3 separate regions of the Homo sapiens genome follow, and regions 1 and 2 are each linked to region 3. Evidence: fine-mapped expression QTL. A gene starts in region 3. Each other region holds a variant in brackets. All regions are shown on one strand. Distances are from middle to middle.

The links. PIP is the estimated chance that this variant, and not a neighbour inherited with it, causes the effect.
Region 1: its variant is the best candidate, but not a certain one, in a credible set for the expression of CYRIB in whole blood (TOPMed, PIP 0.86).
Region 2: its variant is the best candidate, but not a certain one, in a credible set for the expression of CYRIB in whole blood (TOPMed, PIP 0.73).

Annotation. Positions count from the first base shown.
Region 1 is chr8:129,955,872-129,962,015 of GRCh38, forward strand. The region is part of intron 2 of CYRIB (CYFIP related Rac1 interactor B); the gene reads right to left. Among named protein-coding and RNA genes, the nearest start is that of MIR5194, 50 kb to the right of the region's middle. RefSeq lists an enhancer at 3,250-3,750. The variant CACT/C (reference allele first, on the strand shown) is at 3,407.
Region 2 is chr8:129,894,275-129,900,418 of GRCh38, forward strand. All of the region lies in intron 4 of CYRIB (CYFIP related Rac1 interactor B), which reads right to left. Among named protein-coding and RNA genes, the nearest start is that of GSDMC, 110 kb to the left of the region's middle. RefSeq lists a silencer at 5,435-5,635. The variant T/C (reference allele first, on the strand shown) is at 2,623.
Region 3 is chr8:130,013,538-130,019,681 of GRCh38, forward strand. It overlaps CYRIB (CYFIP related Rac1 interactor B), which reads right to left and starts at 3,023. Exons shown (of 14, transcript NM_001353258.2): 1 at 2,833-3,023. RefSeq lists silencers at 2,316-2,585, 2,776-2,965, 3,056-3,125, 3,176-3,235.

The DNA.
Region 1 (6,144 bases), 58 kb before region 3:
GCACCAATGCCTGAATCCACTGTGGTTATTAAAAGGATGGTTGCATCCATCGGGATGGGATAGGTTATGCTGTGGTAACAAAGAACACCTAAATCTCAGCCCTAAGGATGACCACAATGGTCCCTCTGGGGTCAAGAAGGTAAGCCCAGCAGCCCCATCTTTCTCATTTTCACCTGACAATCTGGTTAGCCAACTCTGTGGCTTACATAAGTTTGAAAGATATGACCCTCTCCTTTCCTTCTCCAACCACCTACAAAACTGTCTCGTGGAGCGCAGTGAGAATCAGAAGTGATTATCTTTGTAAAACATCGAGAATGCTGCCTGGCATATAGGTAGCAGCCAGTAAATAATAATGATGGCTACTACCATTGTCACTTCCATTATCCCCACCCCTTCTCAAATAATAATAATAATGATATTATAATTCTCACAGAGCAGTGATTCCTGAACTTAACTTGTCCTGAACATTAGAATCATCTGGAGAGCTTAAAAAAACTAATGCTTGTGTCCCACCCCTAGAGTCTATGAAGTAATTCATCTAGTGTATGACCTTAGGCTTGGGATTTTAAAAGATTGCCAGGTGATTCCAAAGTGTAGACAAGTTTGGAAACCAGCCTCAAGAGGCAGCAAGATTCATATATACACATACATGTCTTTGTGTTTGCACACACACACACACACACACACCTGCTCCCAAGTTCCATGAATCATGCTCCCTGTATGACAGTAGTGGTTATATCACTTAGGGTGAGCTGGGTTATGCTGTGGTAACAGAGCCCCTGAATCTCATCCCTAATGAAAACCAATTGATCACCCCTGCAGGGTCACAATGAGCCCAGAAGCCCTGTTTTTCTGGTCTTTACCTGACAGTTAAGCCTATTCTTTTTTCTTTTTCAGTCTTTACTTGACATTTAAGCCTATTTTTCCTTCCTTCCTTCCTCCCTCCTCCCTCCCTCCCTCCCCCCAGCCTCTCTTTCTTTCTTTCTTTCTTGGCTCTTGCTCTGTCACCCAGGCTGGAGTGCAGTAGCATGACCATGGTTCACTGCAGCCTTGACCTCCAGGGCTCCAGTGATCCTCCCACCTCAGACTCCCAAGTAGCTGGGACTACAGACACACACGACTGTGCCTGGCTGATTTTTGTTCTTTTCTTTTCTATTTTCTTTTTGTGTGTGTAGACACAGGGTCTTGCTGTGTTGCTAGGACTGACCTCAAACTCCTGGGCTCAAGCAATCCTCCCACCACAGCCTCCCTAAATGCTGAGATTACAGGCATGAGCCACTGTGCATGGCCTAAGCCTCTGCATTTTATCCTCAGACCTTTCTCATGTTCTATTTTCTTCTACTTCATACCTTTCCCCAAGTCCAGGTAAAGTTTGCCTGGCCCAGAGTAAATCAGCACCCAAAGATGACACCAATGTGGACAGACTTAGGGGAAATCTGGTTAGAAGAAGGCCACTAAAGGCTATCAGTACTTAAGGCTGTACTTTGCTCAATTCTCTGTCCCCAAGACTTAAAACACAGCACACAATGTGGTAGAAATTTGGATAGTTAAATCAGTTATCATCAGTAATAACCTAGAAGAAAAGCAGACACAAGAACTCAAAAAGCACAGCATCTAAGCTGAAAACCTTATTTATCAACTTGTCACCAACCACCATTTGAATTTCAAATTTTTTTATTGCCGGCACGATGGCTCACACCTGTAATCCCAGCACTTTGGGAGGTGGAGGTGGGCGGATTACTTGAAGTCAGGTGTTCCAGACCAGCCTGGCCAACATGGTGAAACCCCATCTCTACTAAAAATAAAAAAAATTGGCCGGCGTGGTGGCACATGCCTGTAATCCCAGCACTTTGGGAGGCCGAAGCAGGTGGATCATGAGGTCAGGAGATCAAGACCATCCTGGCTAACATGGTGAAACCCCGTCTCTACTAAAAATACAAGAAATTAGCCAGGGATAGTGGCGGGTGCCTATAGTCCCAGCTACTTAGGAGGCTGAGGCAGGAGAATGGTGTGAACCTGGGAGGCAGAGCTTGCAGTGAGCCGAGATCGCGCCACTGCACTCCAGCCTGGGCGACAGAACGAGACTCCATCTCAAAAAAAAAAAAAAAAATACAAAAAATACAAAAAATTAGCCAAGCTAATTAGCCAAGTGGCACACGCCTGTAATCCCAACTACTTGGGAGGCTGAGGAATGAGAATCGCTTGAACCCGAGAGATGGAGGTTGTAGTGAGCCAAGATCGTGCCACTGCCCTCCAGCTTGGGCAAAGAGTGAGACTCTGTCTCTGGGGAAAAAAAATATTAATTTCTCCCTGGATAAAATTGTATCTGCTGGGGTGGAATGGAAGTAGGTGAGGTTGGGGGACCTATGAAGAAAAAAGAGCCTTTCCACTGGGCAGTGAAGTGTGTACACACACACTGGGGGCAGAGCAGTGTGAAAACATTCTGCACCAGCACACAAATGACTTTTGGCAAATCATCTTCCTGATCTGTCGGATGTTACGTCTCTGCAGAATCTGGAGAAAACCAGAAAACCCAGCTTGTTTGCCCTCATTTTGGCAGTTTAATTTAGGAATCACACTGGCTTTACATAAACTCTTTACCAAAAAAACTGTATTCTGTATTTTGAAGGCACAAGTTAACATGGGCCCAAGGGAAGGAAGCATTGTATACAATTACATAATAGCTACTCTATTACTTTAAAACCTAATGGCAGCCTCGGGCAGAAAAGTCAAAAGGGGAGAGAAACCATTTCTGTGAAATTATCTGATGCAATCATCTCTTTGGAGACATTGTCAGTTGACAATGGTTCTGCTTTTTCTCTCGAGCTCATTCAATTTCTGTTATTTACCTGAACCTGGAAGCAGAGTTTTCCTCCCATCTACCACTGGTTTAAAAAAAAAAAAAAAAAAGAGGCCGGGAGCAGTGGCTCACGCCTGTAATCCCAACACTTTGGGAGGCTGAGGCGGGTGGATCACGAGGTCAGGAGTTCAAGACCAGCCTGGCCAAGATGGTGAAACCCCCGTCTCTACTAAAGATACAAAAATTAGCCGGCTGTGATGGCGGGCGCCTGTAATCCCAGCTACTCGGGAGGCTGAGGCAGAGAATTGCTTGAATCTGGGAGGCAGAGATTGCAGTGAGCCGAGATCATGCCACTGCACTCCAGCCTGGGCAACAGAGACTCTGTCTCAAAAAAAAAAAAAAAAAAAAAAAAACAAAGGCAGGCAGGATTTCTCTAATAAAAGCTTGAAATGAAAAGCAGTAACTACTCCCAAGGCCCTGCTTATTGTAGAAAAGTCATTCAACAAATCTTTTTAGGTCTCTATTAACAATTTATTTTCTCTACCCCCATCACAAAAAAGCAGAGGAAGTAGTGTAGCAGCCCCAGCCACAGCCACAGCCACACCC[CACT/C]ACTTGCTTCCTAGGTGTGTGTGGTGTGTGACTGCCTGCAAGCAACTCCAGCTCTCTGAACTTGTTTCCTCATCTGCAAACTGGAAATATTTATTTATTTGACAAGGACATTATGAGAATTTACTCTGAAAAATACATGTAGAGTACCTAGCATTCAATTAAGACTAGGTGAATGCCCTTCTCAGGAACCGTACTAGAGAAGGTGAGTTTCTGGTCCAGTGTGATGACTCACGCCTGTAATCCCAGCACTTTAGGAGGCTGAGGTGAGAGGATGGCTTGAACCCAGGAGTTTGAGACCAGACTGGGCAACTTAGCAAGACCCCATCTCTATTATTAATATTTTAAAAAATAAGAAAAAGGTGAGTGTCTAATAAGAGATAATACTTTTACCCATCTTTGTACGCCAATCCTACCACATCTACTCCACTCCTTCCCCATCAAGAGGCATTCTTCAGTCAGGCACACCTTACCTCCAATTCCAAGGGCAGGTCCTGAATGGTCTAAGCCAATCAGTATTATCCCATTTCCCACCACAATTAATTGAAAGATGAATGCATGTCCTGAAATGATCCAATCAGGACAAAGTTCAGGAAGTTTGTTCAGTGGCTCTAGGGAGAGATGGTAGCTCTTTTCTCTCACGACTATGAAGGAAGTCAATCTGAGAAGAGCCCACAGACAGAAGTACAGAGCTGGGAGGATCTTAAGGAAAGGAAGACGGAGCCCTGACCTATCCTACCTCTACAATTTTTGGTTATGTGAGCCACTTAACTGCTTTTATCAATTATCCCATTTGAACTGGGATTTATGACACTTGCAATTCAAAGCATCTAACTGATACATCCTGGTGCATGGCTGAATAAATCACTGAATGAAAGACTGCACACTTCCAATTATTTAACTCAGACTTTAAGTTCCCTGGGAGCAGAAACCCTGGTCAATCTTGGTCACCCAGGGCCAAACAGAGTTTCTGTACACAGGCCCTCCTTAAGTACTTTTTAAAATAAATGAATGAAATGAAACTTAACAAATCACGATCAGGCGCAGTAGCTCGTACCTGTAATCCCAGCACTTTGGGAGGCCAAGGTGGGTGGATCACCTGAGGTCAGGAGTTTGAGACCAGCCTGGCCAACATGGCGAAACCCCGCCTCTACTAAAAATACAAAAATTAGCTGGGCATGGTGGCGGGCACCTGTAATCCCAGTTACTCAGGAGGCTGAGGCAGGAGAATAGGATAATCGCTTAAACCTGGGAGGCAGAGGTTGCAGTGAGCCAAGATCGATCGCTTAAACCTGGGAGGCAGAGGTTGCAGTGAGCCAAGATCAAGCCACTGCTTTCCAGCCTGGGCGGCAGAGCGAGACTCTGTCTCAAGAAAAAAAAAAAAAAAAAAAAGGCTGGGCATGGTGGCTCATGCCTGTAATCCCAGCACTTTGGGAGGCCGAGGCAGGCGGATCACAAGGTCAGGAGTTCGAGACCAGCCTGACCAACATGGTGAAACCCCCATCTCCACTAAAAATACAATAATTAGCTGGGCATGGTGGCACGCACCTGTAACCCCAGCTCTCAGGAGGCTGAAGCAGGAGAATTGCTTGAACCCGGGAGGCGGAGGTTGCAGTGAGCCAAGATCATGCCACTGCACTCCAGCCTGGGCGACAGAGCAAGACTCAGTCTCAAAAAAAAAAAAAAAAGAAAGAAAGAAAGAAAGAAACTAGGAAACTTACCAATCACCTCACATTTCAGAAGCTTTGAAAGCCCTACTCCCCAGACCTACCTGGATCAAAGGAGGGTCAAGAGGAAGCCCATATGATTTTGGAGCCATCAGACAGGGCTGGGCTCAAATCGTGACTCTAAATAAGCCTCGGCTTCTTCCCCTGAAAAATGGAGACAATAATACCTATTTCCCTGGGCAGGAGGAGCCATGTCAAAGAACCAGGGGGAGGTCTCATTCAAGAAATATTTATTTCCCCCCTGTTCAGCTAACCCTACTTCATTCCATGGGTTCTGCTCTGGGGTTCAGAAACGGGAGTCATCATATGGACAGAGTGGTGGGACACAGCCCAGATCACCCAGCAGAGCCAGCCCTGGGAGGATGAGAACAGGTGAGGCACACCCTAAGCCTCCCATACCTCAATATCCATCAGTCCCTTTAGGAGCAGCATCCTAGGCAGACAGCATAGATAAAACTGGGCCATCCAGCTTCTTGGTTTTGCTGGTTGCCTCCTTACAGAGGGGTGGGACTAGTGCAACTCCCATTATCATAGATCTGTACAACCTTAGAGGCTGTCATTTAACCGTTTAGAAGTAATATGGAACTTGGCCAGACTGTAAGCTCCAAGAGGGCAGGGGCTTGAATCATTCACTAGTCCATCTCTGGTACCCAGGTAGGCAATCAATGGAATATTTCCTGAGTACATGAGTGAAGATGAATGAGTGGATAAACAAATATTGATGAAATCAAGATCTCAGAAGAGAACTATGGCAAAACCCTATTATTTAGTACAGTCTGCTGGCTATGCAGCAGCTAAATCAAATACCAGGCAATGCAAGGGGCTTCTGAAACTGGCAGACCTAGACTGAATTCTGGCCTTGTCAGAGCCCAGGCCTATGACCTCGGGCAAGTTCCTAAACTCTCTGAGCTAGTTTCTTTAACAAACACAATTATCAAGATTAAATAAAAATTTTTTAATTGCGGCCAGATGCAGTGGCTTGTGCCTGTAATCTCAGCACTTTGGGAGGCC
Region 2 (6,144 bases), 120 kb before region 3:
TACAAAGATTTCCTATTTCCTGTCCTCCAAAACCTCAAGTTTAATTTTTAGAGTCTGAAATGTCTCACTGATGTTTAAATTTGTATTTTCTTATCAGTAAAAATGTGCACCTCTTTGTATTATATGTTTATGGGCCATCTGTGAAGTGTATATGCATTTCCTTTGTCACCTATGGTCCTTATTTTTCTGTTGTTTCGCAGCCCCACTCCTACCTTTCTGCACTGCTGGGGCTGAGAATGCAAATGACATTTCCCAGACATCTTTGCCAGCTGGGTTCCTGTTAGGAGGAACTGGAGGGTGAGAAGACAGGAGGAAGAGAGAAGTTACTGATTAGAACAGGCTAGCAGTTGTTGTAGGAGCAGTGTGAATAGTATCCAATACCCTAATTAGGGACAGGTGCAGCCTGTAGGTTCCAGCCTAGTGGTGGCAGCAGCTTGTCTCTGGTAAAAGCAGCATCATAATTTCTTATTTTATTTTTGCTACTCTGTTCTCTCCCTTGTTCCTTTTGCTCTTCCAGCTTTTCTAGTATCTTTGTAACCAATCTTCTATATTAAATTGTTTGAAATATCCAGAGTGGTAAGTTTTCCTAACTTAACTTCAACTGTCATACCACTCTTTTTTCAAACTGAGTGTTAGAAATATATATATATATATATTTTTTTAATTAATTTATTTTTTTGAGACAGGGTCTTGCTCTTTTTCGCCCAGGCTGGAGTGTAGTGGTGTGCTCACGGCTCACTGCGACCTCAACCACCCTGGCTCAATCGATCCTCCCACCTCTGCCTCCTGAGTAGCTGGGACTACATGCCCGTGTCATCATGCTAGTGTGTGTCGGCGGGGTTGGGGTGGGGGTGGGGGTGGGGGTGGGGGCAGGGGCAGGGGGAATACTGTTGTTGTTTGTTTTTTTTTGTAGAGACAGGATCTCATCGTGTTGCCCAGACTGGTCTCAAATTCATGGCCTTAAGCAATCCTCCCCCACCCTGGCCTCCTAAAGTGCTGGGATTACAGGCATGAGCCATCATACCTGGCAGCTTTAGAAATTCTGGATACCACCCTTTTAATGCTTATATACAAGGCAGATACTTTCTTCTAGGATCTAACATATCTTAACTTTGTTTATGGTGTTGTTTGTCATAACAGTCCAGTTTTTCATTTTTCTTCATGGTCTGTGCTTACTGTTTAAATAATAATTCTTCAAAATTGCCTTATTCTTGCCCTTTTATTCACTCATGTGATTGTCAAATTCTACAAAAAAATTCTGATGGGATTTTGATTTGATTTTGCATTAAATATATAATTGCCATCTCTATAATTTCAATCATTTTGTCATTTAATCTATGAATATGACAGATTACATAAATTCATTTTCTGTTGCTAAACCATTCTTGCATTCCTGAGATCAAGTCTGCTTGGTTGGTTATTTATTTATGTATTTATTTATTTATGAATAAATGAATGAGGGTGAATGAATAAATTTGAAACACGGTCTTGCTCTGTTGCCCAGGCTGGTCTTGAACTCCTAGGCTCAAGGAAACCTCCTACCTCAGCCTCCCAAGGTGCTACAACTACAATTACAGGCGTGAGCCACTGCACCTGGTTTATTTGATCATTTAAAAATATATATTCCTAGATTTGGTTTTGCTAACATTTCACCTTGGATTATTTTGTAAGACTGACCTGTAATTTTTTTCTCTGTTCCTGTCTGGTTTTGCTGTCAAGCCTATTTTTATACATAGATTTTTCTATTATTTAGAACCATTTATAAACAATACAATGTGTCAATTACTCAGTGAGTTTTATAGGAAAGTTCTTCCAAACATCTAAGAAGTCTACATCTGTTTCATTTTTGAAACTCCAGCCTAACAGACATTCTGTCACACAGCCAGTACTCAATAAATATTTGTCAAATTAATAAATGAACAATTCAAGTAAAAAGCAGCTTATTTATCCAAAAAGAGAATACCTAAACTAAGGGCATCCCATAAAAAGAGTAGGTTTAGGTCAAATTAAACAAAGTGCAACTTAATAAATTAGGGACTAAGTTTATGGAATAATCCCTTAGTCTTACCTACGAAGGGATAATTCAAATACAAGATCTATAAACATCAAGAAAATCAAGGACAAGGTTAACAGGCAAAGGTTTACTGCTAAAACATTAAAGCTGGCCTGGACAGCAATGATATTTTCCCACAATACTCTTTACCACCTCTGAGCTAATCTTCAATGGTGTTTCCCATGTTCTTATGCATTATCGCAATGAGAGTTCAAATCCTTAAAAATCCTGATGACCAACAGTCATCTTCAGAAGTAGCAATTTTAGTTTTCTGCTTTTTGCACAGAGAATAACTAAGGGCTACAGAGACATTCTCATCCATTACTTATAAACATGCCACCCACCTCCCCAGAGTGAGAGTCTCTGGTGCCTCTTCCAGTCACCAAACAGCAGCAAAAAAGCAAGGAACTTAAGGACCTACTGCCAAGTAAACAGGCCTTGTGGCAGTGAAAGGATAAACTGTCCATCATTCTTTCTTCTCCTCGGAGATTTCACAGGAAAAGGAGAAAGCGCAGGAAACAGGAGGCCTACAATTGAAAGGAAATCTGCCAGAATTTGGCATATAGAAG[T/C]AAAGTGTCATTCCTAGTCACCTCACTATGACTGAAATGGATAAGAGATTCTTAAAAATTGTTCTGCTTTCTCTCATAATTTGAGTTAAAAGATAAGGTATTCTCTGAAGTTAAGTATCCCTTAATTTCTGGGGTTGACTAGGGGCTCTTCTCAACACTATAGTCACTGTGAAGAGTGAAAGACAACAGGCAGAATGGCTTTATATCCCATTACCAATAAATAAGAGAATCTCAGACCAGGAAGGGACCATTCACGGTCAAATGGAAGACTCACCCTTGACTATTTAACCTTAGTATGAATCTATTCTACAACATATCCACACCAAGTAGCCATCTCACCACTGCTTAAATACTCTACATGACTTAAATTTTAGACTTTGGTCAATTTTTAGAAAAATTTGTAGAAACTTAAGACAATGACTGAATAAGCACAATTAAGACATGAATTCTACCCTCGAAAACCATACAATCCTTGTATTAAACTGAAATTCACCCATTTGTTAACATCTCCTCCTTGGTTTAAATTCTCTTTGGCCTCCTAGAAATAAACTAAACACAATCCCTGTGCTACTTAACAAACCATTAAATATATGAAGTATCTTAAAACAACAGTCAAATGAGGTCAAAATAAAGTTACCCATCAGATTATGTATGTTCACATTTGCAAAGGTACAAACAAGACATCTCCTATCTAGTAATGCCAGCCAAGAATTTAGCTTCTGAGTAGAGTTTATAAGTGATTTTCTAGGTAGGGAGAGGCATGGTGGGCGGCTAATGCCTATAATCCCAGCAGTTTGGGAGGTGGAGGTGGGAGGATTGCTTGAGCCCAGGAGTTCGAGACCAGCCTGGGCAACATAGCGAAACTCCATCTAAATTTTTATTTTTTGAGACAGAGTTTCACTCTTGTCACCCAGGCTGGAGTGCAGTGGAGCAATCTTGGCTCACTGCAATCTCTGCCTCCTGGGTTCAAGTGATTCTCCTGCCTCAGCCTCCCAAGTAGCTGGAATTACAGGCATTTGCCAATACGCCCGGCTGATTTTTGTATTTTTAGTAGAGATGGGGTTTCGCCATGTTGGCCAGGCTGGTCTTGAGCTCCTGACCAGGTGATCCACCCGCCTCGGCCTCTCAAGGTGCTGGAATTACAGGCGTGAGCCACTGTGCCTGGCCCCAATCTAAAAATTTTTTTTAAGTTTTTTTGTTTTTTTTTTTAAAGGAATACTCATCACAAAGACCTTGTTAAACATTATAGGCTAAAGAACCAAGGGCAGTGGAAACTTTTTTCCCTGTGATCTTAACTTCTGTTTCCAAAGCACCCTGCAGAGGGCTTTGCATGACGTTAGTGCTAATGTTAAGTTAATAAATGAACGTTTATTGTGGCACATACAATTCATCCAAAAACAATTAAGAAAAATTTCAAGTGTTCCTAAAAGAAATTAGTACTAAAACTTCTAAGTTAGAAAAAAAATTTCACTGGAAAAAACTTTTTTAAGAAAAGCAGTAAGTATGTTATGGATGGTTGGATGCAGAAGCTAAAAGTAAAATAAATTTAAAAAAGAAAAATGTATGCTTATTAGGAAAAGAAGACGGATGTTAAGAAATGTTCTTAAATAGTTTTCAACAGTTTGTCAGGTCTTTCTGTTTGAGCCTTGTACACTAACGGAATTTAATACAAGTGAAATTACAAAAGGCACAAATGTTTTCCTGGTTCTTGAACTTAATTTAACTGAACTAAAATTAAAATCATTCTCTTAAATCTATCTCCTCCAGGCTTATCATAACCAAACAGAATACAAAAACATATTTTTCTTCTCTTGGTAATAGAATTTTAAAGATATGTACTTGAATAATTTTCTACATTAATAAATCAGTATCTCTTACAGTGCTAAAAAGAGTCCAGCAGAGGTCATTCATTTACATTCTGATGTTGCCAAGGAGGTGGTAATTATAACTGAATATATACAGTTTTACTTTGCCTTTCTTTTTTTTTTTGGAGTCTCACTCTGTCGCCCAGGCTGGGGAGTGCAGTGGCAGGATCTCGGCTCACTGCAACCTCTGCCTCCCAAGTCAAGTGATTCTCGTGCCTCACCCTCCCAAGTAGCTGGGATTACAGGCATGTGCCACCAGGCCCGGCTAATTTTTGTATTTTTAGTAGAGACGGGGTTTTGCCATGTTGACCAGGCTGATCTCGAACTCCTGACACCTCAGGTGATCTACCTGCCTCAGCCTCCAAAGTACTGGGATTTACAGGCATGAACCACTGCACCTGGCCTTTCATTATATCATTTTTTAAAATACAATTTTACTTCAGAAAGAAGTAAAATTTTACAGCAGAAAGAGATCCCCCTCAGTAAATTTAAAAAGCAGGTCCCATAATTATTTTCAAATGACAAATGACAAGGCCAGGTATCTTTGTAAATAATTTTGCAAAAGCTGGTTTGTTTTATTTTAAAGGCTGATTTATATAAAATAGGAAGAAACCTATGTTTTCTTAATACTGTGGAATAAGCTAATTGTAAATGAAATGTTGAGATCATTATTAGGACCAAATGCAGTATGTGCATATCATATAAATTTTTTTAACTAAGTATGCCATTAATTATTACACCTTCTAGTTTCACAAAGCATATAAAAAGGAAATGTTTATATAAAGCAAAGTTCAAATCACTAAACCACTTTGAATTTTTACTGTCAACCTACATAACAGAGAGAGGATCACAAAGAAAAGATGTTTATTTCAGAACAGAGCATTGCAATAGGAATATGCATAACATAGTAAACTATGCCATACATATTCAGGGAGGTAAAGGAAGACAAAGGTTTTTAAAGGAGAAACAAGGGTTATATAATAGTTTTGAAATAAATATCCTTAGCTACAAAGATCAATAACAAGGGTGACACCAGTTGGAGGCTGAACAGGCAGTTGCTGGGCAGATGTCCTTGCAGAAGTACTATTTTGTGTAAGGTGGTGATGGCCTTTGTGTAAGGATATGGTCTTTGTAGTCTCTTTCATTATCAGGCATACAAGTGTGAGAACACTCTCTTCACAGCCTTCCCTGGCTCTGTACACAGCTTCCCTGGGTTTCCTTAACATTAGTAACTCCATTTTGATTCTGAAGACTTTCACTACCACATGTCTAAAGGTGCTAAAAAAACGGAGAAAGGGGATGACAAAGGATAGAAAATCTGAGCCCAGACTAAAGGGTTTGTGAAATGACTTGAACGAGCTCAACTCCCTAATTTTATGAAAGAAGGGAAATAAAGACTAGAGCAACCTGGTGACTTGGACAAAGCAGCAAATGAGTAAAAAAAAAATGTGGGGCTTAATCCACTGACTCTGGCAGTGCAGCTTTTGAGAACCTCTTTAAAACATGGCATCAGGGCCAGATGACATCAAAAGAATTAAGTACCACCACAACAAAGGAAACAAAAACGAAAGTCACGTTCCCAACTATGTCCCCTTTGAAATGATTGTTAATGCTGTTTTTGCTGTTAATCAAACTTTAACAGACCTGACATTCAATT
Region 3 (6,144 bases):
CACTTCCTTTACAATGCTCAGTGGTGGACGATTTTGCTGAAGACAGCCAAGTCCCAGACCGCCAAAGCCACATGAATCGTGGTCTCTTCAATTAACGAGATGGCAGTAATGCTGAGCACGGGTGAGGCCACAACCTCCTGGCACCCGCGTCCCTCGGGCGTCCTTCCTGTTCTTCGTGTGCATGGGTCTCTGGATCCTGATATAAGAGCTGTCAGGGACCAGGATTCCACATAGGGAGGAACCACGGGACAACCATTTCAAGGTCAACTGCAGGCCAGTGCGCTGACCTTGAGATGGAAAAAGAATGTACATCCTCAAAGAGCAAAGGGGAACCCATCATTCTTCTGCCCATTCTGTCAAAAGACACGTACTGTTTCCTGCATGGGCCAGGCAGCAGGTCAGGTGCCAGAGGAAGCACAAAGACCACTCAGCGTCTGCAAGAAGAAAAGTGAGCTCTGCAGGCTGAAGACTTAGGCAAGGACCCTCAATCTGCCCCTTCCTGACTGAAGGTCTTGGGCCAAGTCCTGCACTCTCTCTAAGTCTCAGGAAAACGAGAACCCTAGCTCTCCTTTACAGGTAACCCTGGCCACTCCACAGTTCAGTCATTAAAAATGAATCTGGGCCGGGCACAGTGGCTCACACCTGTAATCCCAGCACTTTGGGAGGCTAAGGCAGCGAGGATCCCTTGAGCCCAGGAGTTCGGGCAACATGGAGAGACCCCATCTCTACAAAACATTAAAAAATTAGTTGGGCATGGTGGTGCACACCCGTGGTCCCAGCTACTTGGGAGGCTGAGGTAGGAGGATGGCTTGAGCCTGAGAGGTCAAGGTTGCAGTAAGACATGATCACGCTACTTCTGCACTACTTCAACCTCAGCAATGCGTGAGACCCTGTCAAAACACAAACAAAATGAATCTGCACATGCTCAAACTGCAGCACGCTGCTGCACAGAAGGGTCTGCACTGTCTCTTAAAAATAATAGTAGCACTTACGGGGGTCGGGAGTTGGGGGACCCACATAGCTAAGGATCCTAAGAGAGGCACACAGAAGACTTTGGGAGCTGAGAAAGGAGAAGGGGTGGCTGTCAGAGACAGCAAAATTACTTGAAAATCTCCCAAAGTGAAGGGCAGAAACATATATTGGCCTTTATCTGAAAACCATTTCCAAGTCTCCCTGTGCTGGAACCCACTTCAGCCTCCTGCATCACACACTCTGCCCTTCTCCGTGCTGTGAGCCCAGCAAGGATCTAGAGTGCAAATTCCAATGTGCCTCCTCAGGAAGAAAACTCAGGCCAGCTGACCACTTCTGCATGCCGACCAAGGTAGAAAAGTCACCTCTTCCGGGCTTCCCCCACATTACAGGAACCCCAGGCCTGGGAAACCATCCCAGACGTCAGCCCTGGCTCAGTCTTGGCTGTTGGCCTCAGCCAGTCACCTGGCGGTGGCAATCAAAATGACGCCTTCTTTTTATTTTTCCCCCAGTGCAATCTTCCAAGAATGGGAGAGTCTCAAAGTCAGAGTTTAAGCCCTTTTTCACAAGGGAGTCAGTATTTTCACAAGATGGTCTTCCTCAGAGAGGGGAGGAGTCCATCCAACCCAGATAGCAAAATTGCTCCCTGGAGATCCTGGATGGATGTTACAGGGCAAGGAAGCCAAAATGTGGAAGCACACCGACTCACCTCTCAAAATTCACCACCCACTCGTTCATCTCACAATTATCTATGGGGTGCTTCCCACGTGCTTCAACGCACCCTTTCTAGGTGCTGGGGATGCAGAAATTCAAGGTGACTGGCAATGACACTTTCTATCACTGCGCCCCCTGCAGGCCAGGAAATCTACGCTCGTTTTCTCAAGGCCCCACTCGCAGCAGCCCATTTCACAGACGGGACCCTAAGACTCAGAGAGGGTAAGCGACTTGCCCAAGGTCACACAGCTAGTAAGCGGCAGGGCCAGGAATTAAACATAGCTGCAAAGTGCATGTGACACTCCCCCGCAGCCCCAGCTCTATCCCTCCGCACCCCTCCACCTCTTGCAGCAGGGTGGGTAGCAAAGGCACACTCCAAGTAGCTCCAGCATGGTAAGACCTCGATTCCTCCTTCGTTCCACTCCTGACACAGGACACACGTTTCAAAGGACACACAGGTTTTTCCCAACCCCAGTGTGTGTGTACACAGCCCCAGGAAAGCCCTGCAGGCTGCAAGGGCACCCACCCGCTAACACTGAACTTCCATTTAAAAAGAAAGATAATGAAAAGATAAAAGGCGAAGAGGAAGTGCTCTTTAAACACAGGCGGGTGGCTACCCCAGGAGGAAGTCTTGAGGCCAGTGGAGATTTTGTTCACCCCCTCTAGTTCCTCAAATCCAATGCGACTGGTCTTCCAAGCCCCTGATGGGAGGTGGCCGGGGGCCAGCGCTGCTCCCGGGGTCAGTCCCCGCACCGACACCCGGCTCGCAGGAAGGGTCTGCCAGGGACCAGCCACCCCGACCCGAGCGCCCCCTGCCTCGAGGCGCACAAGGCGCCGGCTCCGCAGCTGGGTGGACCCGGGCGGCGGCCCCGCTGCGCGCTCCCCTCGCGTCCGCCCGCCGCCCCCCGCGCACTCGAGGCGCCTCCCCCGGGACCCCCGCGCCCGCCGGCCCGGACGCCCCCACCACGGCGGCGCCCCCTGTCCACCCGCCGCAGCGCCCGGCCCGGCGGCCCGGATGGTACCTCCGCCTCTCCCCGCACCCATCACGCGCGCGCCCCGCACCCCGCGCCCTCTCCGGGGGCAAATCGGATCCAGGGGCGCGCGCGCGGGCCGGCCGGGCGGCGGCGCCTTCAGAGCCCCGGCACGTACCTGGCGGCCCGGGCGGGCGAGGGGAGCGCGGCGCGGGAGCGCAGGAGCCTCGGAGCCTCCGGTGCCGCCGCCGCCGCCGTTTCCGGGTTGGCGGGGCTCACGTCACCGCCACAGGTTTGCGAGCTGCCCCCGCCGCGGCGGCAGCAGCAGCAGCAGCAGCAGCCCGGGCGAGTGCCAGGCGAGAAATAACTATAAAAGGAAGAGGCGCGGCGAGGAGGAAGAGGAAGCGCTGTTTACCTTCGAGAAGCCGAGCCGCCGGCGCTCGCACAAAAGGAGGACGCTCGCCTCGCGACGCGCCTCCCCCCGCGCCCAGTCCCCGCCGCATCGCGGGGCCCCGGCGTCAGCGCGCGCCGCGCCCCGGGACCGCCCCGCGCCGGCCCCCACCCCAGAACCCCGCGCCCGCCTGGCCCGTGTCCTCCCGAGCCGGGGCGCCACGGGCCCGGGACGGTGGTGACCTTGGGCAAGTCACCGCGGGGCGCGCTGCGATTGGGGGTCATCGCCCTCATTGTGCGAGGAGGAAACCCGGCTCCGAGAGGCGCAAGAGTGACCCCCAAGGTCACTGCCTGTCAGGCAGGGCTTGGGCTCGAACCCCGGTCTCCAGACCTTCAGGCCGGCCAGGTTCCCATCCCTGGGTCGCTTCCCCCTCACCTGGACTTCAGGAATGGTGACAGCCCCTGCCTGGCTCACCTCGCAGCGGGGTCAGTGAGAGGAATGCTGTCCACGCACCCATTCAGCCCTCCCGCAGATACTTACTGGGCCTACTAAGTGCCCGGGCTGTTCTAGGCCCTGGAGCTGCAGCTGCGAACCAAAACAAAATCCCTGCCCGGGAGGGGCAGCGGGGACAGGCCGTAAATATCTGATGGGTCCTATGGTGCTAAGTGCTGTGCCAGAGGAAAAATAAAGCGGGGTGAGGGGACGGTGCGGGCTGTCGGTGCTACCCTAAGCGGTTCTCCAAGGACTTTAAATTTAGTACAGAAATTCCCACATAAAAAGCTCCTCGCCATAATTCCAGTTTCAGGTATTATGGGAGACCTCATCTTTCCCCTGATCTAGAATGGAAAATACTGTGTTTTTCTCCCTGTAACAGGACATGCCTAGGAAACTGATACTCTCCTTCCCTCTGCCTTGCTCCCCTGGCCCAGAAGCCCATCCTATCATTATCTTGACATTCAACCAGAAATTTCTCGGGAAGATAGACAACATTCTCTCAAGTATCTTTCTGCTGTCCTCTAGCAGGGTATCAAAAGGGTTACATCAAAGGCTTCCATTGTCTTTCCACCTCCACCTCCAGCTATAGGGGGGTTGGAGTGTGCTCACATCATACTCAGTGCTGAGTTACCTGATTAGGAGCCAGTTGTTCCATTTCTTTTCTTTTTTCTTTCTTTTTTTTTTTTTTGTCTAAGACAGGATTTTGCTCTGTTTCCCAGGCTAGGTAGCGCAGTGATGCGATAGCTCACTGCAGCCTCAAATTCCTGGGCTCAAGCGATCCTCCCACCTCAGCCTCCCGAGTTGCTGGGACCACGGGTATGCACCACCATGCTCAGCTAATTTTTATAGATTTTTGTAGAGGTGGGTCTCCCTGTGTTGCCCTGGCTGGCCTGTTTCTCCTGGGCTCAAGGGATCCTCCCTGCCTCCGCCTCCCAAAGTGTGGGGATTACAGGCATAAACCACCACACCCAGCCCGCCAATTCTTTAACAAAGGTGCCTTGCGCCTTCTCTTGGCCAGGCCCAGTTCTCGGAGCTGGGGACCCTGAGATGGTGCCATTTCAGCAGTACTCCCTGGACTGCTCTCTAAGCTTACCCGAGCGCCAGTGCCTTCATTCCTAAAGGAAGGGAACTAATGTCCACCTTGCTGTGGGGGCTGAGAAGTAGGTGGGGAAACACTGGGTCCTGAACTATGACCTTGAGGAGAAGCAGGAAAAGGGTTTGGAAGCAGGCAGAGCTGAGCCGCTTATAAAATGAGCATTAACAATTCTGAACATTTATAAAGTACTAAGCAGGTGCCAAGTGTGTGCAGGCCCATGAAGCAGGTTTATCATGGCCCAGTGTCATGCATTAAGATACTGCAGCTGGAAGAGAGATGAGATTTGCCCAAGATCACACAGATTAGACAGCGGTGGAGCTGGGTATGTACCTAGATTGTCTGACTCCAGAGCCCAAGCACTTAGCCACTCTCAGCCTCAGTTTGTTCATCTGTGAAATGGAATGGATAATAATGACTTCGTTAGGTTATGGTGAGGGTTAAATGAAATAGCGAATATATAGAACCTAATATGGATAGGACCCAGGAGAAAGCAATCACCATTGTTGTTACTATTATCATAACTGTTACAATTTACCTTTTTTTTTTTTTTTTTTTTTGAGGCAGGGTCTCACTTTGTCACCCAGGCTGGAATGCGGTGGCGCAATTTTGGCTCACTGCAATCTCTGCCTCCCGGGTTCAAGCAATTCTCATGCCTCAGCCTCCCAAGTAGCTGGGATTACAGATGTGCACCACCACGCCTGGCTCATTTTTGTATTTTTAGTAGAGGTGGAGTTTCACCATGTTGGCCAGGCTGGTCTCGAACTCCCAACCTCAGGCGGTCCGCCCACCTCAGCCTCCCAAAAACCGCACCCAGCCTAATTTTTGTATTGTTCTGTGATGACAAGATTTTGCCATGTTGCCCAGGCTGGTCTCAAACTCCTGAACTCAAGCGTTCCACCCGCCTCAGCCTCCCAAAGTGCTAGGATTACAGGCTCAAGCCACTGCGCCTGGCCTACCATAATAATTGTTAAAGGCATGAGGTAAGGAACTTTCAGGCAAGCTTGGGATCTGTAAATAGTTTGATGTGAGCGTAACATGGAATGCAAATTTGGGGGTCCAGGAAGCAGGGAAGAATAGATGAAGGTGAGGGCAGGGCTTGGATGCCTGCTAGCCTGCACTCTACTGAATTCTGAAATATGTGGGATGGAGAGTCTAACTCTGATGTGTGTGTCTCAGAGGAGAAAGTCTCCATTCACTGGATACAGTGAGGCTGAGAGCATGAGCCTAGGCTCACTCTGATCCTGATAGGTTTGACCAATTCAAGCCATTGGGAACCTGGGAATAATACCCGGGGAAACCTCTGGCAATTCTGTAGTGACTGCTCTGTTTCCCCGGGATGTCAACCCTGACAATGGTAGGCAGAAGTCCAGCATCCTATAGACAGCACTGTCTTTGGAGTTGGGAAAGCCTGCCTGCCATTTTCAGCTGTGCAATTCTGGGCAAGTCATTTAACCTCTGACTTCTTGAATGTTCTTATCTGTAAAGTGGGAATAATAACATTATCTTCT